3 linked regions of the Homo sapiens genome follow. The protein of the gene in region 1 purifies or fractionates together with the protein of each later gene. This does not show direct contact. Each region holds a gene or a part of one and is shown in the gene's direction. Other genes may lie near its edges. The genes, in order: FUCA2, RAB21 and MAN2B2.

Evidence for each region.
Region 2: the proteins of FUCA2 (region 1) and RAB21 purify together in Homo sapiens (affinity purification with mass spectrometry; one large-scale study listed by BioGRID and IntAct). This does not show direct contact.
Region 3: the proteins of FUCA2 (region 1) and MAN2B2 purify together in Homo sapiens (affinity purification with mass spectrometry; 2 studies listed by BioGRID and IntAct, with this or other methods). This does not show direct contact.

Annotation. Positions count from the first base shown.
Region 1 is NC_000006.12:143,501,586-143,505,241, reverse strand, and holds part of FUCA2 (plasma alpha-L-fucosidase precursor), read left to right. Parts: intron 1-989; coding exon 990-1,329; intron 1,330-2,676; coding exon 2,677-2,887; intron 2,888-3,119; coding exon 3,120-3,310; intron 3,311-3,656. UniProt on the Homo sapiens protein: Alpha-L-fucosidase is responsible for hydrolyzing the alpha-1,6-linked fucose joined to the reducing-end N-acetylglucosamine of the carbohydrate moieties of glycoproteins.
Region 2 is NC_000012.12:71,782,209-71,785,864, forward strand, and holds part of RAB21 (ras-related protein Rab-21), read left to right. Parts: intron 1-361; coding exon 362-450; intron 451-3,322; coding exon 3,323-3,465; 3' UTR 3,466-3,656. UniProt on the Homo sapiens protein: The small GTPases Rab are key regulators of intracellular membrane trafficking, from the formation of transport vesicles to their fusion with membranes.
Region 3 is NC_000004.12:6,606,189-6,609,844, forward strand, and holds part of MAN2B2 (epididymis-specific alpha-mannosidase isoform 1 precursor), read left to right. Parts: intron 1-2,918; coding exon 2,919-3,110; intron 3,111-3,609; coding exon 3,610-3,656.

The DNA of each region.
Region 1 (3,656 bases):
CCTTATAAATGTCTATTCTCAAAGATTCTTTTAGATTTTAGTGGAATAGTAACAATGTATTTAAGTCTCTAGGCACTGATGAAATTTTTGAGGCTTTCATATTTATTATGTTTTAAGTATTTCAGTTTATATATCTCTTCTAACATTTTTATATGGAACAATCAGTAATCTAAATACAAATTCCTCTTAAAAACGAACCACTTCTAAGTGTTTGTATAAAGGTATACATTGTTTTTCTTATCTATGTAGTTGGTAGACTATTCACTTTTGGGTAATTTTATTAAAGAGGAACATCCAAGCTTATGATTTTATAGTAGGATGAGATTACACGTGGTGAGTATATTTTAAAGTATAGAACTATTGGGAATAGTAGGGGTTTTTTTTTGCCCCTCTGGTTAAATAAATAATCAGGCTAAAAGAGATTTGCTATACGTGGATCACCAGTGTTCTAAGAATCACACTATAATAAAATAAACAATCCTAAAACTAAGCAGTAGACTTCAAGCTTTGGTTTAGAAGACACTAAGAATCTTGCAGGAGTGCATCTCAGGATCTTCATAATAAATAGTGGTAGTCATCATTTAGCATGGTACATGTATATGTTCCCATCTTAGTTGTGAGCTGCTATTGTTGATTGTTTATACCTTGTGCTAGCAGTTGGCTGGAGACATAGCAGGGAGCACTGCAGACATGATGCAATCCCTTAAGGACCTTAAAATCTAAGAGGGAAAATACTGGAGATAGATCAGACCGTACAGTGATATACCCTGAAAGTTGCTTTTAAAAACCTGTCTCACCTTGTTTAAATTCTCACTTCTCATATAAAAGCACAATATATGCTATGAAAAAATGGCCATAAAACAGTCATTTGTAGGAGCAGGTATTTATATATCGCATGTACTATGTGATTTGTTTGGGCATTTGTGTGGGTTGAAATTTACTAAAATAAAGTTGACATGCTTACAAGGGTTTTCACTATAATTTTCTAGGCTTTACCTTGTGGGGGTCAGAATATTCGTGGAACTGGAATGCCATAGATGAGGGGCCCAAGAGGGACATTGTCAAGGAACTTGAGGTAGCCATTAGGAACAGAACTGACCTGCGTTTTGGACTGTACTATTCCCTTTTTGAATGGTTTCATCCGCTCTTCCTTGAGGATGAATCCAGTTCATTCCATAAGCGGCAATTTCCAGTTTCTAAGACATTGCCAGAGCTCTATGAGTTAGTGAACAACTATCAGCCTGAGGTTCTGTGGTCGGATGGTGACGGAGGAGCACCGGATCAATACTGGAACAGCACAGGCTTCTTGGCCTGGTTATATAATGAAAGGTGTGTATGCTATGAGATTGCTGCAGTTACCCTCCATATTCCTAATATATTTCTAACATTTTAATTCCTTCACCTCTTGAAATATTTCATTTTAAGTCATTGGTGGTATGGGGGGAGAAAATCATTGTAAATAATACTTATTAGATATATCACTATTTACTCAACATAATCAAGGGTAAATAAATCAGGAGTAAAATCCAACTCAATGGTCTGATTTTGAGATCAGACTAAAAATCACAGGATCAAGAACTTTGAAGGTGTTAATTTTGTGGGTCCCCCCTTTTTCTCTCCTACCCTGGTCCTTTATGGCCTCTATTCTGGGACAACTCTGTTTCTTCATCACTATTTCTGACTATTTGCTTCTGAATCCCGCAGACTGCTTCTTTTTATCCTCTTACCTTTTGGTCATCTTTGCTGCCCAGCCAATGTCACCCTTGTTTGTCTCCTCTTTTCCTTCATCGCAGCCTTTTCACTTTCTCCAGTTTTTTCCTATTGCTTCCTGGTATGTTCAAGGCTGCCCTATTAGAACAGGGAGTTCTGATTAAACTCCTCCATTAGGCTTAAACTATATGGACCAAATTTGCATGTACACTAGAAAGCACTGGGTATTGTGCTACGAAGTCAGGCAACCTTCTGCTTGCACTTCCTGGGCCCACAAAGGGCACAAATACAAATATTCTGAAGAACTCTTGATACTTAAAACAGCAGTGTGTCCAGGTACTCCTTCCAAGGGAAAAAACTGGGAGCCATCACTTCAATTTGTGACTCAAAACTGTTCCCTCTATGTGGCGTGTATTTCCCTCTTAAATATGCCACCTGCTATGATAAGCAATATTGTGGGGATATTTCACATGATATCAACAGTCAAATTTTCTGAGATTTTTCAATATTAGGCACAATGGTAAGAGAAAAAGAAAGGCTAGACTACATGTATGAGATCATTGAATCATTGAAAAGAAAAGTGTCTTGGGTATAAATTCAGTTTTGGCTACCATTTACAATATGGAAGGGAGCTTAAAATATTCATATAATACTCTTATGAGTGCTATATGTGCTGGGTACCAGGCTAATGTTTTACATAACTTATTTTTGTTCTAATCATAGATGAGGAAATTCATTATTCAGAGGAGTCAGGTAATTTGCTCTAGGTCTGGGAGCTAGAAAGTGACAAAGCCAGAACTCCAATCAACTCAGGTCTGTTTGACTTCAAAACCATGGGCTTTCCACTGTACTATGCCATGGTCCCTTTTCAGAATTGTATTTCAATTACATGTCTTTTCAGTGACATTTCTTTTTGTATAAAAAGCTTATACCTTTTGTTTTAAAAAATTGTATGTTTCATTTCAGCCCAGTTCGGGGCACAGTAGTCACCAATGATCGTTGGGGAGCTGGTAGCATCTGTAAGCATGGTGGCTTCTATACCTGCAGTGATCGTTATAACCCAGGACATCTTTTGCCACATAAATGGGAAAACTGCATGACAATAGACAAACTGTCCTGGGGCTATAGGAGGGAAGCTGGAATCTCTGACTATCTTACAATTGAAGAATTGGTGAAGGTACAGTGAAATGTCTGGTGGCTATTAACATAATATTCTTAATAGTGTGGTCATGTAGGAATTATTTCTTCTATGGCTCAATGGCCTATAAATATAGGACATTGTTCTATCCTGTGTTTGTTCTTCTAGGCAGTGACTATATATACATGTATAAATATATAAATGCAACATATTAGCACATTAAAGATGGAATTATTTTATTTATCTAAAAACATTATTCTTAATTTTTTAGCAACTTGTAGAGACAGTTTCATGTGGAGGAAATCTTTTGATGAATATTGGGCCCACACTAGATGGCACCATTTCTGTAGTTTTTGAGGAGCGACTGAGGCAAATGGGGTCCTGGCTAAAAGTCAATGGAGAAGCTATTTATGAAACCCATACCTGGCGATCCCAGAATGACACTGTCACCCCAGATGTGTGGTAAGTCATTCTTGTTACCAAGTACTCTTTTATAAAGGAAGAGATTTAAAATTTATCAGACATATAAAGAAGAGTAGGATAAAAAGAGAAATTGGATGAATTCCTACATATACAAAGCACTTTCCAAACTTTGCTTACTCTAATATAAAGAGAAGGGGAAGAATTTGCATGTTTTGAAACATTTATTGTTTATCAGATTGAGCTTACATCATTTCTAGGTATCTCCCAGTAGTGGACAAATTTTGGCTGAAAGTACTCAGCTCTTAGAAAAATTGTAAGCTGTTCAGACCAATGAAAAATGCTGAATGGTTAGTCTAAAACGGAGATTACTGTTTAACCAGTTCGG
Region 2 (3,656 bases), on another chromosome or scaffold:
TGAAGCATGTTTACATGGTAATTTCTGGGCTTGTGGCAATAAAGCCCTTACTTCCCTTTTTGACTTCAGTGAAAAATACGAGTGATATAAAACAAAACTATCATGATCAAATAGGCAGTAAGCCAGAAAAACTTTTGAAGTATTTGAGTCCCAAATTAATCTATAAAAATTTCGAGGCTTGTTATATTTGTGTTATTTAAAATTTGATTTAATGTATAGAGAATTTAAATAGCTATATAAACTTAATTTCACTAAACTTGAGTAAATTAATATGTCACTAAAACTGTTACTATAAAAAAGCAGTTAAGACAAAATCATGAATAATATTTTACATCAATCACCGATGTTACTTTTTTTTAAGGTATGCAGAATCTGTGGGAGCAAAACATTATCATACTTCAGCCAAACAGAACAAAGGAATTGAGGAACTCTTTCTTGACCTTTGTAAAAGTAGGTATATTCAGATTTAGTTTGTTTAGAAATGGTTTTTGGTTTTTATTTTTTAAAAAATAGTATGTATTTTACACCAGTGTTACTTTTCAAAGAATTGGTTCTTTTTAAACTATTGACTATTGGTAGTATTTCTGAAGTGCTGTAACTATTTTTTTTAATGCTTAAATACCTACTTTAACCCTGTTTCAAGCAGTAATTAATGGTTATGAAATCATAAGTATGGTGTGGGCTAAATATATATTATAATATATGCATAAGTATTAAAAGTGGAAGGGGAATTTACATATTAAAACAGATTTAAGACCTGTAACAACCTCTTGCAATGAATGGACCTTATTTGGACACTGATTTGTCAAACTAGTGAAAAAGAGTGTTTGTGAAACAAGATATTTGATGATATTAAGATACTATTAATTTTTTAGGTGTGATTATGGTATTGTGGTTATGCTTTATAAAAGGAGTTCTTATCTTTTAAAGACACATTAAAATAATTTAGGAATAAAGTTATGGGTCTGAGATTTGACTCAAAATAATGGTAGGGATGCTTAGGGTTATTCATGAAATTGGGTGATGGATTTTCATTATGCTGTATTTTCTACTTTATGTTTGAAATTTTCCATATTAAAAAGTTTATAGTTTTAAAGAAAAAGGAAAATAAATTTATATATATTCTGAAAATCATTTCTTATATTACCAATAAAATGCATATCTGAGTTTATGGACTTTAGACTCTTTTGAGAATTTGATGAAATCATGGTTTTTCTCTCTAGAAAAGAATATTGATATGTGTGTGTGTGTGTACACACACACACACATTTTGGAATAAATTAGTTTTATAAAACCCTCAAGTCATTCATAATTCTTCTAAAATATTGATTATGTAAGTGATGTCCCCTGATCAGCAGCATCAATATCACTTGAAAATATGTCAGAAATGCAAATTCTTGGGCTCTCCAAGCCTGCCGAATCAGAATTTCTAGGGATGGTGCCCAGAATCTGTGTTTTAACAAACGCTTCATATGATTCCAATGCACACTAAAATATAAGAGCCAATGCTGTACATAACAACTTGGGGATCTTATTAAATGCATATTTTGATTTAATAGGTGTGGGATAGATTGAGGTCCTCATTTCTACAAGCACCCAAGTGGTGGTGATGCTAGTCATCAGGATATCCTCCTTCCTTACCTCCCTCCCTCCCTCCCTTCCTTCCTTCTGATAATGCTTTTAAATAACAATGCACTAAGTCAGTGGCTTACAAATGTTATAAATATCACATCTTCAAAACAATTTTTGCATGCTCCACATGTTTATTTAGAAATTATATAACATGTACAAGTACTAATATGTACATTTTAAAACATACCTAAAAAATAGAAATTTTGGAAAGTTAAAAATAAGTAGATATAGAATTTATAATGTTTTCTTATTTCCTCTTGTTGGATTGTCCCACATACCTCAAATTGTAAACCATTAATCAAGAGCAGTCTCTAATTTAAGAGCCCTTTTGTATTTTAAGGACACCCTCTTTTCTTCCTTCATCTTCTCAAATACGTGTTTTGTAAATACTTTCTCTCAGTCTGTGTTGTGTATTCCCATTTTTCTTACCTGTGTCTCTTAAAGTGCAGTTTTAAGTTTCAGTGAGGTCCAGTTTATCTATTTTTCTTTTATGATTCATGTTTTATGTCTTACATGAGAACTCTTTGTGTAAGCCAAAGTCACAAAAATTTTCTCCTATGAAGATTTTTCTCCTGTGTTTTCTTCTGGAAATTTTGTTTCATGTCTTACATTTAAGTGTATAATTCATTTTTCGTTGTTTTTTGCATAAGATGTTAAGGTGTGGGTTAAGGTTGATTTTTTTTTTTTACAATAGATGTCCAGTTCTATTAATACTACTGTTTTTTGAAAATATTCTTTCTTCATTGAATAACCTTGGCAACCATGTCAAAAATCAAGAGACCATATCTACGGGGTCTATTTCTGGACTGTGTTTTTTTGGTTCCACTGATCTATTTCTCCTATCATTGTCTCACTGTTTTGATTAGTGTAGCTTTATACTAGTTCTTGCAATCAGGTGGTGTGAGTCTTTCTGCTGTGTTCTTCGAAGTTCCCTCATCTTAAACTCCATTATTCTTCAAATATCGCTGTGGTCAGGGACAGTGGCTCACACCTATAAGCCCAGTGCTTTATGAGGCCAAGGCCATAGGATCACTTGAGCCCAGGAGTTTGAGACCAGCCTGGGCAACATAGTGAGACCCCCATCTCTAGCAAAAAAAAAAAACTCAGCCAGGCATGGTGTTGCATACCTGTAATTCCAGCTACTCAGGGACTGAGGCAGGAGGATCAACTGAGCCCAGGAGTTAGGGGCTGCAGTGAGTAAGTGATGATCACACCACTGCACATCCAGCCTGGGTATCAAAGCGAGACCCTGTCTCTCAAAACTAAAATAAAAAGAATCATTTACTTAAAAGTATTACATTTCTAGTTGAAGAATAAATCCTGCCCCCTAAATATTACTTGGAATAATTTGAACTTCTTTGACATATTTCTAAGTGTGTTTGGAAAATCTTAAGGATTATACTTGTACGCAGGCAATTGTTCAGAGCAAAAAAATTTTTTTCTTTATTGATATCACTGTGGCCATTATACCACTGGATAAATAAGCTTACTACTTGATACTAGTTTTTGACACTAGTTTTTTAAAACATGCAGGTGAAGCTGTTTTAGTGAGCTGACCCAATGTTCATTATATTTAGTTTCTTTGTTGGTCGAAAGTCAGAAATAGCTATCATAGTGTTATACTGAAATTTTAGAAAGAGAAAACACAAATATTGTGGTCCTAATAATGTTTGCTTTCTCTCTGTCTTAGGGATGATAGAAACAGCACAAGTGGATGAGAGAGCAAAAGGCAATGGCTCTAGTCAGCCGGGAACTGCAAGGCGAGGTGTACAGATTATTGATGATGAACCTCAAGCCCAGACCAGTGGTGGAGGGTGCTGTTCTTCTGGATAACTGTTCACGCCTAAGAAATTAAAAGACAGAACAAAACTGTGGATCATTGCCCTCAACATGAAGACTGCCATATTCCAAGTCACATTATTTTACCAATGGAATTATAGAATTAACAGTATTTTAAATTACGTTTATAACACTGCAGAGACCTTAAGTGCTAAACTTAGTGGAGTTTGTGACCAGAGAATTGG
Region 3 (3,656 bases), on another chromosome or scaffold:
GGCATTTGTACTGAGGTGGGTATCAGGGGAGCTCAGCTCAAGGTCACTGTCAGCAGCTCCCTGCCCACAGAGCTCCAGGACTTCTCTGGGAATGGGGCCCCAGTCAGGTCTGTCCTCATCTTTCCCCAGTGGCTCCTGAGGGAAAGTGGGGCAGGTGCAGGGGTGACAGCAGCCAGCATGGGTGGCTGGCAAGGGGGGAGTTGGGCAGAGGAGCTGCAGAAATGGGAGAAACCCCAGCATGGTCCAAGCCTGCCAGGTTAGGCCAGGAGAGGCAGAATGTGCCCTGTCCGTTCCTCACTCAGGCCCCATGCCCCCTCTGTACATGCCCCTTAGGGCAGCCCACGGACCCCACATGCCTAAGCCAGGGTCCCACCCGGCATTTCCAGCACTGGAGCTCAGGCTGTCCTGTCCCGTTTGTGGCCCTGTCTGTCTCTCTTGTTTTGAACTCCAGTGAGGACAAAGGAGTTCTTATTGGGCTCCCAAAACCCCACCAGGGGTAAGCCTTGCAAAACCAGTGCCTGTCACCTGAGCAGAAAGGAGGAGCTGTTGGTATTCAGAGTAGGGGCCATCGGGAGACGACACCTGGGGCCAGGCCCCAGGCCTCGAAGGGCATAGGGGAGGTTGCTCCATAGGAAGGAGACAGCCTGTGCAGAGGCCTGGGGTGGGAAGCCAAGGGTGCAGACACCAACCCCAGGGCAGTGTGGGTTGAAGGGAGCGCTTCTGTTCCTTATGTAACAGCTTGACTGAGATGCACTTCACATAACACACAATTCACCCATTTAAAGTGGGCAATTCAGTGGTTTCTGGTGCATTCACAGAGTTGTGCAGCCATCACCACAATCAATTTTAGAACGTTTTCATTACTCCAGAAAGAAACTTCATGCTGTTGAGCAATCACTCCCCCACGGGCCCTGGCAATCCTAGACTATTTCTGTCTATATGGATTTACCTGTTCATACAATATGTGGTCCTTTTGCAACTCACTTCTTTCACTTCACATATTTTTCCCCCTTTTTATTGATTGATTGATTGATTGAGAGAGTCTCACTCTGTAATCTAGGCTGGAGTGCAGTGGCACAATCATGGCTCACTGCAGCCTCAACCTCCTCTGGGGCTCAAGTGATCCTCCCACCTCAGCCTCTTGAGTAGCTGGGATTACATGTGCATACCACCACACCCAGCTAATTTTTGTGTTTTGCAGAGATGGTGTTTCACCATGTTGCCCAGGCTGGTCTCAAACTCCTGAGCTCAAGTGATCCACCTGCCTCAGCTTCCCAAAGTGCTGGGATTACAGGCTTGAGCCACCATGCCCAACCCACAACCCACTTAGCATGTTTTCAAGGTTCATCAGTATCGTAGCACGTATCAGTACTTCGTTCCTTTTCATGGCAGAATACTATTCCATCGCATGTATGTACCATATTTTGTTTATCCATTCTTTAGTTGATGGACATTTGGGTTGTTTCCACGTTTTAGCCACTATCAATAATGCTGCTCTGAACATTCATGTACAAGTTTTTGTGTGGACATACATTTTCGTTTCTCCTGGGTACATAGCTAGGAGTAGAATTACTCAGTCACAAGCTAACTCTATGTTTAACTCTTTGAGGAACTGCCCGACCGTTTTCCAAAGCGGCTGCACCATTTTCTGTTCCTCCCAGCAGCAGATGAGGGTTCTGATTTCTTCACATCCTCGCCCACACTTGTTATTTTCTGTCTTTTCAATTATAGCCATTCTCGTGGGCGAGAAGTGGCATCTCATGATGGTTTCGATTTGCATTTCCCTGCTAACTAATGGTGTTGAGCATCTCTTCATGTACTTACTGGTCACTAGCATATCTTCTGTGGTGAGATGTGTCTTTAGATCCTTTACCTATTTTTAAATTGGCTTGTCTTTTATTATTGAGTTGTAAGAGTTCTTTATATATTCTAGCTACAAGTCCCTTGTCAGATTTATGATTTGCAAATCCCTCCTCCCATTCCATGGCTTGTCTTTTTACTCTTTTGATGGCCCCTGGGGGAGCTTTTTAAAAGGATCGTGCGGGGAAGGGGTCCAGGGCCAGAGGCCTCAATTCTTTTCTTTCTCCTCCTCCACCAGCACTCAGTAGAACCCTCCACAGCCTGCCTCCCTTTCCTTCCCCACCCTCACCACAATCCCACAGAGAAGTGGGTGCAGAGGCCATCCACCTCATTGTCCGCCCACAGCCAGGCCAGACTCAGATACAAATACATCACTTGTGCACTTGGTTAGGCCAAATATTGCATTTTACAATTAAAATACTTGACCCCCTCCTGCTCTTCTCCCATCCTCTGTCCTAACACAAACATCCTAATAGAAGGGAGGGAGCACAGAATTTAAAGTCGGGGCTGAATTTGAGTTCTGGCTTGCACACTTCCTAGATGTGTGATCTTGGGTACATGATGTCACAACTTCCAGCCTCGGATGCCTCGGGAGTGGGATGGGTTAACAGTCCCTGCCTTTGGGGGTTGGGAGAATTTAACCAGGTGAAGTCAGTGAAGGCTCTGGCCCATGACATGGGGTCTGTACACATGGGTGTCCTGCTGGACAGCTCAGAGTCAGCATGACAAAAGCCCGTTCCTGCACTGGTTTCGCTTGCAGACCACAGCCTGGGTGAGCCAGTTCCATCTCTTGGGGGTGCCCTCTGCTGACGGCTCACGGTTCCTGTCTGCAGGCTCTGTCCGTCTCCTCGTTTGTGACCCATTCTGGGACAGCATGGAGTCTAAGGCCACACTGGCTGTGGGTGGGGTCTCAGGGCTTCTAGATGAGCTGAGTCACATGGCCTCGTGAGTGCTACGCAGGCCACTCAGATGGCATCTGGAGAGAGAGGCTTGCCAGCCGGTGTCTGTAAGACCTTGTGCAGGATGAGAATGACATCTTCTCTCTCCTGCCTCTGCAGACAGAGTAACCGAACGGTGCGCGTGACCCAGGAATTCCTGGAGTACCACGTCAACGGGGATGTGAAACAGGGCCCCATTTCCGATAACTACCTGTTCACACCGGGCAAGGCCGCGGTGCCTGCGTGGGAAGCTGTGGAAATGGAGATTGTGGCGGGACAGCTTGTGACTGAGATCCGGCAGTACTTCTACAGGTGCTTCCCCTGGGGTGACCCCCACAGCCCGGCACACAGTCAGCGCACGCGTGCAGGCAGCTCAGTGAATGAGGGTCTGTCTTTGCTCTGAACCCCAGCTTCCGGGCCGTGGTTGACACGTGGTCTGATGAAGAAATGAATTGCTCTGGTGTCTGCATGCTGGCTGCGTTTGCGTGTGCTGTGTCACGTTGGTTGGGAGCTAAGTTCAGAGCTGGGAGAGAGACCCACAGACCCTGGGGCCCACAGAGCACCTGTTCTTCCATGATCAGAGCAGACGTAAGGCAGGCCCGGCATGGCAGCCCTGCGGTGTCGGGGAACCAGGCTGCTCCCAGCCGCTCGGGGTCCTGGGTGGTGCTATTGTCCACATGGCCCAAGAAGGCTCCCTGCCTTTCGGCGTACCCTGCCCTGCCCACCCTGCCCACATGAAGGAAGGGAAGCAAAAAGGAAGCATCTAGAAGGTTCCTGGAGCTTCACTTACTGATGCTCCCTTCTCCTCCAGGAACATGACAGCACAGAATTACACGTATGCAATCCGCTCCCGGCTCA